Linked DNA regions of Homo sapiens: region 2 is linked to region 1. The links come from fine-mapping of genetic effects on gene expression. A gene starts in region 1. The other region holds a variant in brackets. All regions are shown on one strand. Distances are from middle to middle. Region 1 holds the start of PLA2G4E-AS1 (PLA2G4E antisense RNA 1). Region 2 overlaps PLA2G4E (phospholipase A2 group IVE).

The links. PIP is the estimated chance that this variant, and not a neighbour inherited with it, causes the effect.
Region 2: its variant is fine-mapped to the expression of PLA2G4E-AS1 in sun-exposed skin (GTEx, PIP 0.91).

The regions. Positions count from the first base shown.
Region 1 is chr15:41,967,519-41,976,394 of GRCh38, reverse strand. PLA2G4E-AS1 (PLA2G4E antisense RNA 1) reads right to left here and starts at 3,632. Exons shown (of 4, transcript NR_120334.1): 1 at 3,397-3,632; 2 at 2,437-2,591. It overlaps EHD4 (EH domain containing 4), which reads left to right and starts at 3,838. Exons shown (of 6, transcript NM_139265.4): 1 at 3,838-4,136. The coding sequence starts at 3,901. RefSeq lists silencers at 3,787-3,916, 3,957-4,026, 4,127-4,396 and enhancers at 6,159-6,378, 8,150-8,199.
Region 2 is chr15:41,993,648-42,002,523 of GRCh38, reverse strand. PLA2G4E (phospholipase A2 group IVE) reads left to right here. Exons shown (of 20, transcript NM_001395548.1): 7 at 1,304-1,367; 8 at 2,242-2,420; 9 at 2,524-2,607; 10 at 2,963-3,000; 11 at 5,265-5,400; 12 at 7,028-7,164. PLA2G4E-AS1 (PLA2G4E antisense RNA 1) reads right to left here. Exons shown (of 4, transcript NR_120334.1): 4 at 3,430-5,385. Among named protein-coding and RNA genes, the nearest start is that of PLA2G4E, 23 kb to the left of the region's middle. The variant G/A (reference allele first, on the strand shown) is at 5,200.

The sequences.
Region 1 (8,876 bases):
CATATTTAAAGTACATTTATCCGTGAGTCCAGGACCCCTGGGAATACCAAAACCATGGATGCTCAACTCCCTTATATAAAATGGTATTGTAAAAAAAAAAAAAAAAGGTATTGTATTTGCATATAGCCTAAGCACATCCTCCACATACTTTCTTTTAAACTTAAAACGCCATGCATCAGGAACCCATATACTTTAAATCCTACCTAGATTACTTATTATTAATGTAGATGATATGAAAATAGTTGTTATACTGTATTGCTTAGGGAATAATGAAAAGGAAAAAAGGTCTGTATGTGTTCAGTACAGATGCAACCATCCATTTTTTTCCCCAAATATTTTCCATCTGTGGTTGATTGAATCCATGGATACAGAACACAGAGATATGGAGGATCCAACGTACATAATTTCATGAGTTTTTACATATGTATACAATGGTGAAACCATAACCACAATCAAGGTAATGAATAAACCCTTCAGCCCCAAAAGCTTTCCAGTGCCTTTTGCAATCCTTCCCTCTGCTCCTCCCCTGCTGGGTCATGTGGTAAGTGTACGTTCCACTTTTTAAGAAACTGCCACACTGTTTTCCAAAGTGGTTGTGCCATTTTACATTCTGACCAACAATGTGTAAGAGTTCCAGTTGCTCCACATCCTCATCAATGATTGGCATGATCAGTCTTTCCTAATTTTAGACATTCTAATAGGTATGTGGTAGTATCTTGCTGTGGTTTTAATTCGCATTCTCCTAACAAACAACAATGTTGAACATGTCTTCATGTGCTTATTTGCCATCCATACATCTTCTTTTGTAAAATATCTGTTTAGATCTTTTTTCCATTTTTTAAATGGAAATTTTAAAATTGGGGTTTTTACTATTAAGTTTTAAGAAGTTTTTAAATATTCTGGATACAAGTCCTTTATCAGATATGTGATCTGCAAGTATATTCTGTGCCTTGTCTTGTCTTTTCATTCTCTTCACAGTACTTTCAAAGGTCAGAAGTTCTCAAGTTTAATGAAATCCAATTTACCAACTTTTTTTTCCTTTAAGGATTGTGCTTTTGGTGTCACCTAAGAAATCTTTCCCTAACCCAAGTTCACAACAATTTTCTCCCGTGTTTTCTACTAGAAGTTTTATAATCTTAAGTTTTACATTTAGTTCTACATTTATATTAGTTTTATATCTAGTTCCATTTTAAGTTAATTTAGTGATGTATCTATTTAGGTTAGGTTTATTGATTGTAACGAATGTTCCATTGGTTCAGGATGTTGATAGTGGGGGAGGCTGTGTGTCGGGGAGGGTGGGGGTATATGGGAACTCTCGGTACTTTATGCTCCATTTTGCTGTGAACCTAAAACTGATCTGAAATTCACGAGTCATTATCACTTACATTCACTCTTGGTGTTGTACATTCTGTGGGTTTTGACAAATATATAATGACATGTATCCATCATTATAGTACCATAAAAAGTAGAGCCACTGCCATAAAAATCCTCTGTTCTCTGCCTGTTCATTCCTTCCTTCTCCCTAACACCTAGAAACTACTGACCTTTTTACTTCCTCCATAATTTTGCCTTCTCCAGAATGTCATAAAGATGAAATCGTACAGTACATAGCATTTTCGGATTGGCTTCTTTCACTTAGTAATAGGCATTTAAGTTTCCTCTGTGTCTTTTTATGGCTTGATAGCTCATTTCTTTTTAGTGCTGAATAAGATTCCATTGTCTGGATGTACCACAGATTATCCTTTCACTTACTGAAGGACATGTTAGTTGCTTCCAATTTTTGGCACTTATGAATAAAGCCACTATGAACATCCATGTACAGGCTTTTCTGTGGATATAAGTTTTCAATTCATTTGGGTAAATACTAAGGAGCTGATTTCTGCATCATATGGTAAGATTGTATTTATATCCGTTTGTTTTTATGTATTCTAAAAAAATACATCGAAGCTTTTACTTTTGTTGTCAAATATGTCAGCCTTTGCTTTCATAATTTCTGTCCTTAATGTTGGTTAGAAAGGCTTTTCCACCGCCAAATTGTATAAATCTCTTGTACCTTCTTCTAGTAGTGCAGTGGTTTCATTTTCTTTTTACATTTCAATCTTTGTTTTATTTTGACACAAGGCAGATGTCTAACTTTATTTTCCCTTGGCTTTCTTTTCACTTCCCTAGTTACATACAATTCCCTCCAACTATGTGACCCACACAACAACTCCAAAGGAGTTTCCATTTTGCTCTTAAGGAAACTAGGGCAGAGAGGTAACTCATCACATTTAAAATCACACAGCCATTAATTTACATAGTCAAGGTTCAAACCCAGATCTTTTGATGCAAAGTCCTGTTCTCTCATACTCCAAGTATGGTCCAGGGATGGGTAGCATTGGCAATACCCGAGAGCCTGTTAGAAATGTAGAGTCATGGGCCCCATCCCATACCTACCGAATCAGAATCCGCATTTCTGTTAGGTTGGAGAAGTACTGCAGGGTGTACTGTTTCCCCAGACTTAGGCCACATCAGAGTCACCTAGGGCATCTGTTGAGCTCCATCTCTCCTCAATATTTTAACTCAGTAGGTCTGGACTGAAGACCAGGAATCTGCATTTTAACAAGCATCCCAGCTCATAAATGCATATATGCAGGTGGCCCCATGGATCACACTTGAGAAATGCTCTAAAACAACTAAGAAATATTCCTAAGCTACAATCAAGGACACAAAAGGTGATTATTTCCCCCAATCTCAACTTAGATAAGTGAGTATCCTTTTAACCTAGAAAAGAAACAGGCCAGGGGCGGTGGCTCACGCCTATAATCCCAATACTTTGGGAGGCCAAGGCAGGCGGATCATCTGAGGTCAGGAGTTCAAGACCAGCCTTACCAATATGGTGAAACCCCATCTCTACTAAAAATACAAAAATTAGCTGGGCATGGTGGTGAGCGCCTGTAGTCCCAGCTACTCAGGAGGCTGAGACAGGAAAATTGCTTGAACCCGGGAAGCGGAGGTTGCAGTGAGCCGAGATCGTGCCACTGCACTCCAGCCTGGGCGACAGAGCGAGACTCCGTCTCAGAAAACAACAACAACAACAAAAAACAGCTAGGAGGTGACAATGACTCACATGTCAATATGTGGAAATAAAGTTGTAATAATGAGGATAATGTAATAATGAGAGTAATGACTAAATTTTCGGCTTTACAGAAAAACACATAAAGAAAACTAAGGGGAAAAAGCCTTTAGCTGATCCAGAATTTAGTGAGGGCAATGTGGAGAAGTAGGAGAAACGGCTACTCAAATAGATTCCAGTCCACTTCCCCTCAAGATTGTGTCAATTATGCCCGTGAGCCTGGGTCTCTTGGCCTGTAAAACGGAGTCATAACCACCCGCCCCCGGGAAGACAGAACCTGCCTGTCCACTTTCTGAACTTTTCATCCCCAGTATCGACGTCCAGAGGCCTGAATGAGTAAACGTTCCAGGAGATGGAGCAGCCTCCGGAGGCTCGCTTTGGGCAGCTCAGATTTACCCGGAAGCCGATGCCACCTGGCCAGAGGTGAGGCACCGGCAACCAGAAGGGGGCCCTGAGCATGACCGGTCAGTGCCACCCGGCCGGGAAGACACCATCTCCCCGCCCAGTCCTCTAGAATGACTCCGTCATCAATAATTCATTAAGAACCTCCTCTCAATTGGCTGACGCCTTCAGCCCTCTCTGGCAGAGATCCAATCAGGAAGGACCTGAGAGAGCTCGTCTGAATAGTGGGCGAGCGCGCGTGACGTAGCGGCCGAAGACTGGCTGTGGCAGCACAAGGCGGGGCCCTCCTCGGGCGGCGGCCAGCGCGGCCGGGGCGGCTCAGTGCGAGCCGGGGAGAGTCGAACCCGGAGCAGGGTCCCATCCGAGCGTGGACTGGCGGCAGGATGTTCAGCTGGATGGGGCGGCAGGCGGGCGGGCGCGAACGCGCTGGCGGCGCGGACGCGGTGCAGACGGTGACGGGCGGGCTGCGCTCGCTCTACCTGCGCAAGGTGCTGCCGCTGGAGGAGGCGTACCGCTTCCACGAGTTCCACTCGCCTGCGCTGGAGGACGCCGACTTCGAGAACAAGCCCATGATCCTGCTGGTGGGCCAGTACAGCACCGGCAAGACCACCTTCATCAGGTACCGTCACCGCCCCTCGCCCGGCTCCCGCCCCGCTCCGCCCTCCCCACGTGTGCGCCGCAGTCGGCCGCCTCCCGCCGCTGCCCCTCCCGGCCGGCGCGACCTCGGGGACCCCTCCCGGAGCTCGGCGCCCGGTGCCCTCGGCCCCGCCCCGGCTGGCCAGCCCCGCGCGCTGGAGGGTCCCGCGAACCCGCGCCCTGCGCACTCCGAGCCCTCCTTCCTTGCGGTTCGGAAGGCGTTGCTCCCGCTGGCCTCGTCCGGTCGCCCTGGCGGGAGGGTCCAAGGGAGAGAGGGGGCGCGAGCCATAATCAGCATATTCTTGACGAGGGAGTGATGCCTAGGGATGGAAATGGGGGGAGAGGCGTAGGGTATCCGAATGGGACAGAGTCCTAGTTGGAGAGTTTGTTTAACTATTCATTTGTTCAACTATTTCTTGAACAAATGAATGGCAGCAGGAGAGCGTATCGCCCAGGCCCCCTTCCCTTGAGGTCTTTACGTGCCACCCCACAGTGTTGTGGGGAGGGGATAAAGAGGCCGCCTACGTTCAGTTCATGCACCGCCTTTAGCCGCCCGTAGGAAGTGAGCTGCGTGTAGCAGCCGCACCAGCCTGTGGAACTAAGGGGGAGTGTCATATTACTATTTGTTAGTTTCCATTTCTTAGGTGGGTCATTCCCTCCTCGCTTACCCTTGACAACTGAAAATATTTGTCATGCTTACCGTGTTTCTGAAAGCACACAATCACTGTGCATACCCTGTGGTTCAAATCATATAGTTTCAAAAGAAGTGACTTTTGCTGGGAAATTATTTAGACAGAAACAGATTGCTTTGTTGATCACCTGTTTTATTTCTAAAGCAGCCAGCATATTTAGGCTCACTGTTTTTGGTAAGAAGAACTTATTTTTCTGACTTAAGCCGTGTATCAGTTGAAACAAAGTGCTGATCATTTAAGGTTTTGGTCCAGGGTTTTGGAAATTGTAACAATCTCTTCATCATTTGATGTGCAACAGGTGTTGAGAAAACTGCATCTATATTTGGATACATGCCATTTCTGTTAAGTAGCGACCTCTTTTTCTCCACTCCAGTGACCTAAATAGTTCCTACAAATAGAGTAGCTATCACTACAGGAAATATGTTAAATCCAGGCCTCCAGATACACTGCGAATGAATTCCACAAAACAAATATACTGTGTATTGAAATGTCGTTCTAGATAATAAATTGAGTGTGAAGAAAGTAATTTCAAAATTGCTTTATTTGGTGCTTATGGACAAGACAAAAATAGAATTAAATATGTCACCGTCACCCAGACACTCAAAATGAACCATAGCTGTATTACAGTAACTGGCACCTTGAAAGATGACAAATGTCACATTTAAGGTCTCAGTAATACTGTCTAGTTTTTAGGTACTAGGGATAATAAAGTGTTATGGCCAAGTGGTACAAGAGTGGGAAGCGGTACTGTTGAAACATACAAAGAAGAAAGGCATATATTTTTGTAATTTAGTGGTGGCATGTCCCCACACCCTAGGCATTTCCTCCTGTTTGTCTTTGCTGTGAGGTCCTTGTTGTGCCCAGGTGTCATCAGGGAGCCCCTGCTAGATGCTGTGCCAACCTGGAGATAATGCAGCCCTCTCTCTGCTCCCATAGACTGGATAGCTAGCCAGCCTGATTATCAACTCCCAGGAAGATGAATACAACTCACAGGAACATGAATTTATCTTTTGTATTTTTCCAGATTTCTCTCTCATTATATTCTCACTCTTCTCTCTGTTTCATTATTTGGAGAAATTTGTGGAATAGCTAAGCGCAGTTTTATGAAGGGTTCTGAGATTTGATTCCTGGCAGCTACCTCATCCAAATTGGCCACCTCTCAGCAGGTGCTGGAGCTGTGGGCCACCCTAGGGTGAGGGAGGAATCACCTTATTAGGAAGCCATTTGTTCTTGAGGCTTTCCTTGAGCTAAGTGGCTTTGTTGTTAGGTGATGTACACAAGGTAGACCAGTGAGGTTAGAAGAAAATCAGTGTGGGCAGGAAGCTTGGTGAGGCCACAGGAGACCTGAATTGCTTTTCAGATTGGAGCTAGGAGGAAGTGATTTAGCACCCGGGAGGAAATCCCCAAACAAAAGGGCAGCTACCCTGGAGACTTGTGAACTTGGAATTAAATATCACCCCAGACACTGTAAATGAACCATGGATTCATCTTGAGCGGAAGGGTTGGCCCAGGGTGCTGAGCATCCTGGATCCTGCCTTAGTTAGAGCCTGGTTAGTGGTCTGGGTTGTTTGCTTCTAGCGATTGGGCCCTAGAAGCTCATACTTGGCTGTGGGGTGTACCTAATCTACATAGCCATAGATTCTTATCTCCCTGGCTTCCTGCACATTCCAAGAGGTCACTGATGACACAGAACCTGTGCTGACATGGTGGGAATCTTCTCTTATTGCTGTTGGCTCTTCTGCCTTTGACTGGCAATAAAGAATTGGCCAGAGAAGGAGGGGAGATGGGCATGGGGGAAAGTGACCATGTCATCTTAGACTCTGTACTAGCCGAGGAAGGATGGATATGGAGCTCACCCAGGCTTGTGTCCAAAACTTGAGGAAAACAGATTTCAAAGATTCCTCCAGAAAATCCCTGGCCCCAGGTGCTGTGAAGGAAGACATTTCCACTGAAAAAGTATGAAGTCCATTTGAAATGAATGCAAACTACACAATTTTTTTTTTTTGAGACAGTTTCGCTGTTGTTGCCCAGGCTGGAGTGCCATGGCATGATCTCGGCTCACCGCAACCTCCCCCTCCCGGGTTCAAGCAATTCTTCTGTCTCAGCCTCCCGAGTAGCTGGGATTACAGGCATGTGCCACCACGCCTGGCTAATTTTGTATTTTTAGTAGAGATGGGGTTTTTCCATGTTGGTCAGGCTGGTCTCAAACTCCCGACCTCAGGTGATTTGCCCGCCTTGGCCTCCCAAAGTGCTGGGATTACAGGCGTGAGCCACCGCGCCCCATCCCAAACTACACATTTTTAAGAGCTCCACTTTCTCCCTTCATATGCTCTGTTCCCTCTCCCCAGAAAACTTATTCTAATGAGGAAAAAAGAGGGAAGTCACTCAAGAAACTATATAGGCTTTAAAAGGGTAGAGAGCAGGGAAATAAGGCAAGAAAAGAAATAAACTCCCAGACTGGAGAGAAAAAAGTAAAACTCTTTGCAGATGACATGATCTTCTATGTAGAGAATCCTAAGAAACCACTTAAAAACTATTAGAACAATGGGGGAAACTATAGTTCAACAAATGGTGCTAGGACAACTGGATAGCCGCATGCAAACGAAATAGAGAATGACTGTTAGTGGGCGTGGAGTTTCTCTTTGATGTGATGAAAATGTTCTGAAATTGGATAATGATATTGGTTGCACAACTTTGTGAATATACTAAAGGAGTGCACCCTGTAAAAGAATAAATTTTCTGGTATATGAATTATATCTCAATAAAAAACCAAAACAATTCAGTCTTTCAACACTAAGCATCATGTGATTTAATTTTCATGATTCTGCAACTAGCGCCAGCCAAGTAATTTCTGCATCTATGTGTAATAATTTAAAATAGAAATGGATGCCAGAAAGAAAACAAAGTAGAAATAAGCTAGAAGAACCCAAGGGCAAAGGAACTAAAGAGTAAAGATGAGGGGCCAGGTGCAGTGGCTCACACCTGTAATCCTAACACTTTGGGAGACTGAGGTAGGTGGATCGTTTGAGCTCAGGAGTTCAAGACCACCCTGGGCAACATAGTGAGACCCCATCTCTACAAAAAAAAAAAAAAAAAGGAGTAAAGATGAGGGAAAAGGGAGTGAAAGTAGCCATCCCACAATCCCTGTATGAGTATTCTTGTCAATGTATAAACATGTTCATTGTTCATAACACTCAAGTTGGTAAAATCAAAGTATGATAAAAATTTTTAATAAAATGCTTGATACCGTAATTGTGTTTAAAAACTTTAGATATTAACATTTAACTATAGTATTTAATAGGGGAAAAAAGGGGCAGGGGTGCATGTGCAAGGGTGCAGACAAGGTTTATGGGCGGTATGAAGGATCAAGAAGCTGGAGTGGGCTGAGAAGGTAAAAGTGCCTTGGACATTAAAAAAGCCTTTTAAGGTATGATTAGAACAAGAACAAGAATCAGGAAGTGATCGGCCCACTCATGGGCTCTTGCTGCAATATTAACAGAAAGCAGAACTACTCAGCTTCCTCCTTTTCCTCAAAGAAAATGCCCCAGAGATGGCAGAAGGGAGCCCAGCTGTGTTCAAGAGGGGATTAAAACCACAGGCTGAGGAGCTCTCCCAGGGCCTGCCACAGGCGAGGTTCAGGAAATCTCTGGCCGGACACATGGATGAAAGAACTTGCATTTCTGCTCAAAGAACTGTATTTGGTGGCTTTTAAGAAATTGTGAAGAATATGAAAAGTATTGGAACACTGGAAGCAGGCAGATGTTCTCATTTTCAAAAAAGCAGGGAAATGGATTCTGAATAGGAACAAAGGCCTGCTTCATTCCCTTGATAAGTTTCTAGACTCAGTAATTAAGGAAAAGGGAAGTGAAGGCATTCACTAATAGGCAGCCTGGTTCATCTATTTTTAAAAAAATAAAATCTCACACAGAAAAACTATGGGTCCTATTTAGTGGTTCTCACACTCATCCAGATACTGGGGCTCCTGAAAATCAATCTTCTGTTCCAAATATTATACCCTTTACAGATCTCTC
Region 2 (8,876 bases), 26 kb before region 1:
GACTAAACGAGGCCAGCCAAATGGGGCACAGGCAGCACTGGGGCACGAGCTGGGGCTTCTGTACAGAGGGAGGAGGTAGCTGGGACATCACCCTGGCCGAGCACTTCATATCCCAAAAGTGACCCTTCCCCTTAAGAGCCTCCCCAATAAAACAACCCACTAAGTGCAGCCTCCTCTCAGACTCAGTCTTGGTCCTGTACCCCACAACCCCAGTAATTCTACAAGCACAGTTTACCTTTTTTTTTTTTTTTTTTTTTTTGAGACAAGGTCTCACTCTGTCGCCCAGGCTGGAGTGCAGTGCTGCGATCTCGGATCACTGCAACCTCTGCCTCCCGTGCTCAAGCACGCCACCACCCCCAGCTATTATTTTGTATTTTGTAGAGACGGGGTTTCAACATGTTGCCCAGGCTGGTTTCAAACTCCTGAGCTCAAGCGATCTGCCAGCCTCAGCCTCCCAAAGTACTGGGATTACAGGTGTGAGCTACTGTGCCTGGCCTACAAGCACAATTTCTGTATTAAAAATTGTTTCATAGCCAGTCATGGTGGCTCATGCCTATAATCCCAGCACTTTGGGAGGCCAAGGTTGGGGGATCACTTGAGCCCGGGAGTTCAAAACAAGTCTGGGCAACATAGTGAAACTCCATCCCTACAAAAAAATACAAAAATTAGCCAGGCATGGTAGCATGTGTCTGTAGTCCCAGCTACTCAGGAGGCTGAGGTGGGAGGATCGCTTGAGCCCAGGAGGTCAAGGCTGCAGTGAGCTGTGATTATGACACTGCACTCCAGCCTGGGTGACAGAGTGAGACCCTGTGCCAAAAACAAAAATTCATATTTCGGCTGTTGGTACAGCTATTTTAATTAAATGCATCCAGTGCCTCAGGGTTCAAGGAGACCTCTCCCTCAAAAAGAAGAGTCTTTGGGAATGTGTGGCAAAGGAGTATGATCTGCCTCAGCATCTTGACAAGGCTATTTTGTCGGAAGCCCTCACTTTGAAAGCCCAGAGCTGAACATTCCCTCAGGTCAGATTCCCGACCTGCAGCTGAGGACCTGACCCCTAGTAAACTGTGACCGTGGGTCCTAGACCTCCTGGGACAGCTTCGTGGTCAAGTATCCTATCTCTGAGTGAGATGGCATGCCTTGATTGGGTTCAGAAAATGTGGTCAACACATTCTGCATTCCCCAGCATCAGCCCAGTCAGACCAATGCTGAATGTATCCTCTGGTCCCTCATCTCCCTTCAGCCTGGAAGAGCAAGGAGGTGGCTGGTGCTCAGACACTCTGTGACCCTCCTTTGTTTTTTACAGTCTCGACAAGTCTCCTGCCTGGAGGTTCATGCACAATCCAGGAGGCGGAGGAAGAGGGAGAAAAGTGAGCTGTTTTGCCTTTTCTGCCTACTGGGGGACAAGGGGGAGCTGCTTCCAAATCCCATCAGCATCAGACTCCACCTAGTCCAGGGCTTCCCTGGGCTCAGGGGGACCAAAAGCTCGGCTGAAACCCCTCAGAATCATCTCACCCCCAGGGGTCCTGAGCCCCTGGCCTCCCATCCTGCTCTGTAAAGGGCGTGTTCGCCCAAGCACCCACATAACCTTGGAGTATCTCAGGTCTGGGGTCCCAGTGCTGCTCCCTCTATCCACGCTTGTCTGTGCTGTGCCATGCCAGGACCTCAGATTGCCTAGGTCAGTGAGGTGGTCAGCACCCGAAGCCCAGGACCCCTCTAACTATGCCCCTTCCTCTAGGCAGACCACAGCTCACAGAGGGTCCTAGCACTTTATAGCTGGCAGAGACCTAAGAGATCCATGAATACCATACCCCTACCCTACTCCCCACCCCACCCCATGTTGCCCATGCAAGGCTACCAGACATGAGGGAGGGAGGGAGGACAGAAGAGGCGTCTACATCAAAAGCGACAGTGTGCGGAGGGTCTGCCTCCTCTACAGTGGGCAGGTTACTTTGGGGCATCTTCTGGCAAAGCTGAGCCAAGGACTGGTCCTGAGGACCTTCTCAGCATCTCAAAGGGTTTTCTGGGGACTATGTTTGTCTGCATCCTCATAAACCTCATTAAAATGCAGGTTCCTGGGCCCTGCCCTACCCTATAGATTGAGAATCTCTGGGGAATTTGAACTGGTGCCCCAGGTGATTCTAAACTCCTCCTGGATACCTCCAAATAGGTTTTTTGCTGGACCAAGTTGCAGGTGGGTAGTGAGAGGCTCCCAGGGTCTCACCCTCTTGTCCTCTCTCCCAGTGAAGGACCTCCTGGTGATGGTGAACGAATCCTTTGAGAACACCCAGCGTGTCCGGCCCTGCTTGGAACCCTGCTGCCCAACCTCTGCCTGCTTCCAAACCGCTGCCTGCTTCCACTACCCCAAGTACTTCCAGTCCCAGGTGCACGTGGAAGTGCCCAAGAGTCACTGGAGCTGTGGGGTACAAGGCGGCTGACACTGGGGGAGGTGTGGGGGACTGGGACAGGTGGGGGGTGCCAGAGGAGCTCCCCAGCCCCTCTCACAGAACCCACCCATCCCTCCAGCTTTGCTGCCGCTCTCGCAAGAAGGGCCCCATCAGCCAGCCCCTCGACTGCCTTTCCGATGGTCAGGTGATGACCCTGCCTGTGGTGAGTGCCTGAGTCTGGGAAGGGCCCCTGACTTACTTCCCCTGGAGCTCCTGTGGTAGGGAGGTGGGGAGAGCCTGGGGAGGTACAAGAGAGAATGTGACTCGTGAGGGTCTCTCTCAGGCAGGATGGAGGAGTCTTGTGGGGCAGGAGACTGATGAGCTACAGTGTGGTCCAAAGAGTGTATGGAGGCTGAGTTGAAGATGGTGGGGAGATTGTGTCCAGAAGAGAGAGGCAGGGATGGAGCGCCTGTGTGTGCACGTGTGTGCTGAGTGGGGTCTGGGTGGACAGTGTGGATCTGGGATCACTTGGCTCTGAATTGTCACCTCTGACAAGCTTTTCATCTTTCCCTCCCCAGGGTGAGAGTTATGAATTACACATGAAGTCTACACCCTGGTATAGTACCCGCATTCTGTCCGTGCCTCTCACTTATTCATAGCAGTGGGTGTGCAGTGGTATCTCACTGTGGTTTTGATTTGCATTTCCCCTATGGCTAATGATGTTGAACATCTTTCCATGGGCTGGCTGGCATATCATCTTCTTTGGAGACATTTCTATTAGATCCTTTGCCCACTTTTTATGTGGGTTATTTGTGTTTTTTTATTGTTAAGTTGTAAGAGTGCTTTACATATGCCAGATACAAATCCCTTGTCAGATATATGATTTGCAAATATTTCCTCTTATTCTATGGCGTATCTTTTCACATTCTTGTTGGTGTCCTTTGAAGCACAAAGGACTTTACTTTTGAGGAAATTTGTTTTTTTATCTTGTCACTTGTGCTTTTGGTGTCATATCTAAGAAACCAGAAATCATTGCCTAATCCAATGTCCTGAAATTTTTATTTTATTTTATTTTATTTTATTTTATTTTGAAATGGAGTCTCACTGTCGCCCAGGCTGGAGTGCAGTGGTGTGATCTCAGCTCACTGCAACCTCTGTCTCCTGGGTTAAGCGATTCTCCTGCCTCAGCCTCCCCAGTAGCTGGGATTACAGATGCACACCTCTACACCTGGCTAATTTTTGTATTTTCAGTAGAGACGGGGTTTCACCGTATTGGCCAGCTGGTCTCGAACTCCTGACCTCAAGTGATCCACCCTCCTCGGCTTCCCAAAGTGCTGGGATTACAAGCGTGCGCCACCGCGCCCGACCAAAGTCCTGAAAATATATTCCCATGTTTTTTTCTAAGACTTGTTTAGTTTTAGCTCTCACATTTAGGTCTATGATCAATTTTTAGGTAATCAATCTACATGGTGTAAAAGAGGGGCTCAACCTCGTTCTTTGGCATGTGGATATCCAGATGTCTCAGCACCATCTGCTGAAAACAACATCGTTTTCAGAAATCTTGATTGTCAGAAATCAAGTGGCCATGATTTCTATTGACAGTTTGATTAGCTATTTGCCCTTGGAAAAGCTCTTTGCCCTTACTGAGTCTCTGTTTTCCTCATCTGTACATTGGGAGAATAACAAGGATCCTGTGCATCACTGGGTTGCTCTGAGGATCCAGCTAGACAGCACGTGCGAAGTACTCAGTAATCCATCTGGCAAGTGGGATGCTCAGCAAACGTCAGCTAATGTTATTGTTATTATTGTTGTTGTATTATTATTATTCATTCCCTGTTGAGGCCAAAGAAAGAATTATTTTCTAACAGCCATGTCTGCAGCCCTGTGCTGGACAAAGAGGAGACATGATGGAAATCTCCTAGGCCCAGCCTTCAAGGAGATGTGGCTTTGTCAGTGAGCCAAGGCTCAGTTGGAAATGGTCAAGGTACATTCATCTGGAGTCACTGGGGAGCTGGGCCTCAGAGGATGCACAGGCTGGAGGTGGGCAAAGGGAAGACACTTCTGGTGAAGGCAGGGGCCTGTGCCAAGACCCGGAAACAGGACTGCTTCTGGGAGCTCTGGGACCTGACCCAGAAGTTTCGCGGGTAGTTTGAGGTGAGCTTGGAAAGATCAGGCAGGGTCTTGGATGCCAGGCCAGGAGCCTGGACTTGTTTGGGGCAGGGATGTGATTAAAAAAAAAAAAGAGGACAAGCATTGTGCATGTCACAGAGGTGCCTGCCCCACCTGCCTGCAGACTATGAGGTGACACAATGAGATCAGGAATGGGATGGTTTTTGTCAATTGCACACACACACAGAATAATTGTTATTCTAGGAGCAGGAAGAGCTCATTGAAGAACGTGAGCTCCATAGGAACAGGGAGTTTGTTTACCTAGCACAGAAGAGTCCATACCGTGGGGCCTTGTTCAGAGGGATTTGGCAAAATGATCTCAGCGCCTTTTGTCACCCATGCCTGGCCCTGGGCTAGAGAAGCCACCTGGGGGAAGACTTTCTGGACTTTCCAGATCTGGCCGAGGAGACAGAGGACTCAAAGCGTCCCTAACACAGTGCCAACAGTTATCTTTTGTTGAGTACCAGCTCGCATTGTGCCAGCTAAGGCTTTGGGGGCTTTGCATTTGTTATCTCTTTAAGTGCTGAAGACAGTGCTGAGAGTTCAGCACGATTCGCCCCACTTTACAGATGGGAAAGTGGAGACCCAAGGTCACAGAAGTGGTCGCTGGCAGAAGTAGGCTTTGAGCCTAGGTCCAATGGACCCT[G/A]AAGCTGTGTCTACTCCAGGGAGGTAGAGGCTGCAGGCCCAATACAGGGTCCTCTCTCCCTCCAGCCCTGAGACACTGGACGTGCGGCTGGGCTTCAGCCTGTGCCCAGCAGAGCTGGAGTTTCTGCAGAAGCGGAAGGTCGTGGTGGCCAAGGCCCTGAAGCAGGTGCTGCAGCTGGAGGAAGACCTGCAGGAGGACGAGGTGGGTAATCAGGGATGTGGCCAGCCTGGGCCCAGCTGGTCCTTCCAGCACCATGCCCTCCCAGCCAACCCAGGCCCTGCCCTACCCCAGGCGCCACCTCCATGGATGCTTTTACTGCTGAGGTACAGGCGCCCTGGTGAGAGCTGTGCTGGAAGTGATTCTGTTTTATATTCACAAGAGAAGGGGAGAGCAAAATGGAGACAGAAAGGACAGAGCCCCAGCGCCTCCTCCCAAGCACTAAGAGTTCCTGCTGTGGCTAAAGGGGCCTTACTCAGGGATAAAATGCCCTCCTCACCCCAGCCAGGAAAACATTTTAAGCTGTACCACCTTCTGCACCCCACACCTCCACCCAAAAGGCCTTAGGTCCTTCTTTCCTCAATTGTCTCTCCTCTCAAATCCGCACAGGTAAACACACTCCCAGAAATAACAGCGCTAGGAAGCTGGAGAGAAGCAACTTGCACTCCTAGGGCCAGACCGCCCCTTCTTCCCACGGGAGCAGACGGTGGGCCTCTGTCACAGCCCTCTGTTGCCTCCCTTGTGTGGACCAAGGCCCACACTCGCCTGGGCAGCAGGCAAGCCCTCCAAGCGCCTGCTTTCTGAGGCTGACCCTAGGTGAGGACAGAGACCTGGCGGGTGCCCGAGGAGGACTTGTAATAGCGCTTTAGCCAATGGAAGGTTCTTACAGCCCCCACTCAAAGGAAAACAGACAGAATGAGTCTTGACAAAGAGCCCCTTCCTCCCTCCTTTTTTTTTTTTTTTTTTTTTTTTTTTTTCTTGAGACAGGGTCTTGCTCTGTCACCCAGGCTGGAGTGCAGTGGCACCATCACAGCTCACTGCAGCCTCCACCTCCCAGGCTCAAGCAATCCTCTTACTTCAGCCTCCCAAGTAGCTGGGACTCCAGGAATGAGCCACAATGCCTGGCTAATTTTTGTATTTTTTTGTAGAGATGGGGTTTCTACATGTTGCCCAGGCTGGTCTTGAACTCCTGGGCTTAAGCAATCTGCCCACCTCGGCCCCCCAAAGTGCTGGGATTACAAGTGTGAGCCATTGTACCTGGCCCTATCTTTAGGGAAACATTCCAGGGGCCTCTTAAACCTCTGCTGACCCAGAGCTGGCAACCCTGCTCCTTCCCACATCACCAGTCCATTGACTCTTGGCCTTGCCAGTACAGTACCTGCTGAGCAGGCACCATGTGCCAGGCCTGGTGCCTTCCCTCAGATCCAGCTACAGAAGATGTTGGTTTGTCCCATTGAGGGATCGCACATTAGTAGGGTTCTTGAACAAGCTGCCCACCACCCTCGGACCCCAGTTTTATCACCTGTTAACCGAGGGCTAGACTAACAGTGCTAAGAACTCTGCTAGCCACAGCTTTCTGTGATTTACCAAGCCTGTGTTAGGCTTCAGAGTCCTTCACTGACACCAACTTCTGGGTGTGGAGCTGAGGTCTATTTCTAGACCCACTGCTCTGTGGAAAGGCAGGTGTCAGGTGGCTCAACGCCGCACTCCCTGCCCTCTGTAGCCAGCTCTGCCTCCTCCATTGTTCTTTCAAAGTTGCCGTCATTCTAAGTCTTCTCCCAAGCTTTGCTTCTGGAGCCTTCCCCAACCGCCTGCCTCTGTGTAACCCCAGGTGCCGCTGATAGCCATCATGGCCACTGGGGGTGGAACAAGATCCATGACCTCCATGTATGGCCACCTGCTGGGGCTGCAGAAGCTGAACCTCCTGGACTGTGCCAGCTACATCACCGGTCTATCAGGGGCCACCTGGTAAGGAGACATGAGCCACTGTCTGTGGAGCCCAGGGCAAGCCACGAACAGGCTGGCCTGGGGTCTCAGGTGAAGCTCCTCCCCGCCACCCAAAGACAAAGTGACTCCTGAAGCCTGGGAAGTGCCCCACATGCAGTGGTGTGGCCTTGGGCATGCAGCTTGACTCCTTGGAGGCTCGGCTTGTGTATCTGCACAGTGCGGATAACAGTAGCTCTGACCTCATGCGGTGGGTGTAAGACGCTCTCCCGCTACTAAGTATGCCAGAGACACTGTATGCCCTGGCCTTTCCTGGTGTTACTGTTTCCCTGGGGCTGTGGTATGGACCCAGGAACATGACCCCATACTGCTGGGGACATGCAACGGGCAGGGCCCTGCAGCTGAGCTCCCTCCTTCTCACCCTCTGCTGGTGAGCAGGGCCAGGGGCTGAGCACTGGGTTCCCCCACAGGGAGGCCAGGGTGAGGTCAGCTTACCCACAGAAGGCACAGTGCCTGCGGCTCACTGTACTTTTAGGGGCCCACAAAAATAGGTTAATTTCTTTTAAAATCAGGATCATTTCATTAACAAACTTATAGGTTGAAGAAAATGTTTTAATAAATAATATGAATACATTTGTCTTTATACAACAGTCATGAAATATAAATTTTAATATTTTTTATGTGGCCAGCATGAAATATAAATTTTAATATTTTTTATGTGGCCAGGTATGGTGGCTCACATCTGTAATCCCAGCACTTTGGGAGGCAGAGGCAGAAGGCTTGCTTGAGGCCAGGAGCTCAAGACCAGGCTGGGCCACATAGGGAGGACTTGTCTTTAAAAAAAACAAAAATAAAAAACATATAAACATTTTTTGTGGGGCCCATCAAAACCCTGCGTGGCCCTGGTTCAGGGTGGCCTATCAAGCAGGGCCGTGTCCTGTCTGTGACTGGTGGGCCTGTGAGCCCTGAGGTCCCTTGCTGTGCCTTGTATACTGGAGGAGCTCTGGGTAGCCCCCGTGTGAGCAAATGGATGTGAATGGGCCTTGGAAAGCCAAGGGCTCCTGTGCCACACACCCCCCCGGGGGGCAGAGGCGCCAGCCCAGGTGAGACAGAAGGAGACATTTGCCTCTTGCTAAGCACTGGAGTCACTGCTTCCTATGGCTCATCTTGTTTCTTCCTCACAAAAAACTATGAGAGAGGCATTGTCATTATTTTTCAGCTGGAGAAACAGAGTAATTTGCCAGGGACACTCAGTTAATGAGCAGTGGAGTAGAATTTGAACCTAGTCCCGGGCCCACATCCTTAACCTCCATGCTAAATGGCTGCCCCCGGTAGTAGGTTAAGAAGGTAACTTGCTTCCAGCAGGTTGAGGGGCACCTGCGTCCTCCCGGACTACTATGCGATAGACAGATAGCAGGAGGAACTCAGGCCCAGCCGGGGTGGGATGGGTGGGGTCCCCTGGCCTGGGGAAAGCACAAGTCGTATTCTTTTAAAAACTCATTTGCAATGGCTTCTGGAAGCTTTTTTAAAGTATAAAATGAATGGGTGAAGCTTATGGAGAGCAGGGTGCTTTTTGTTGAAAAGTCTCCTGACCACCTCCCACCTTCCCAAAAGCAAGTCCTGTGAGGGAGGAGGCCCCTGTTTCCTTAAATGTGCAGCCGCAGACTAGCTGCACTGCCAGGGAGGTCATTCTCAGGCGCAGAATGAAAAGGGCCCTTTCCTGTCCTGACGCAGAA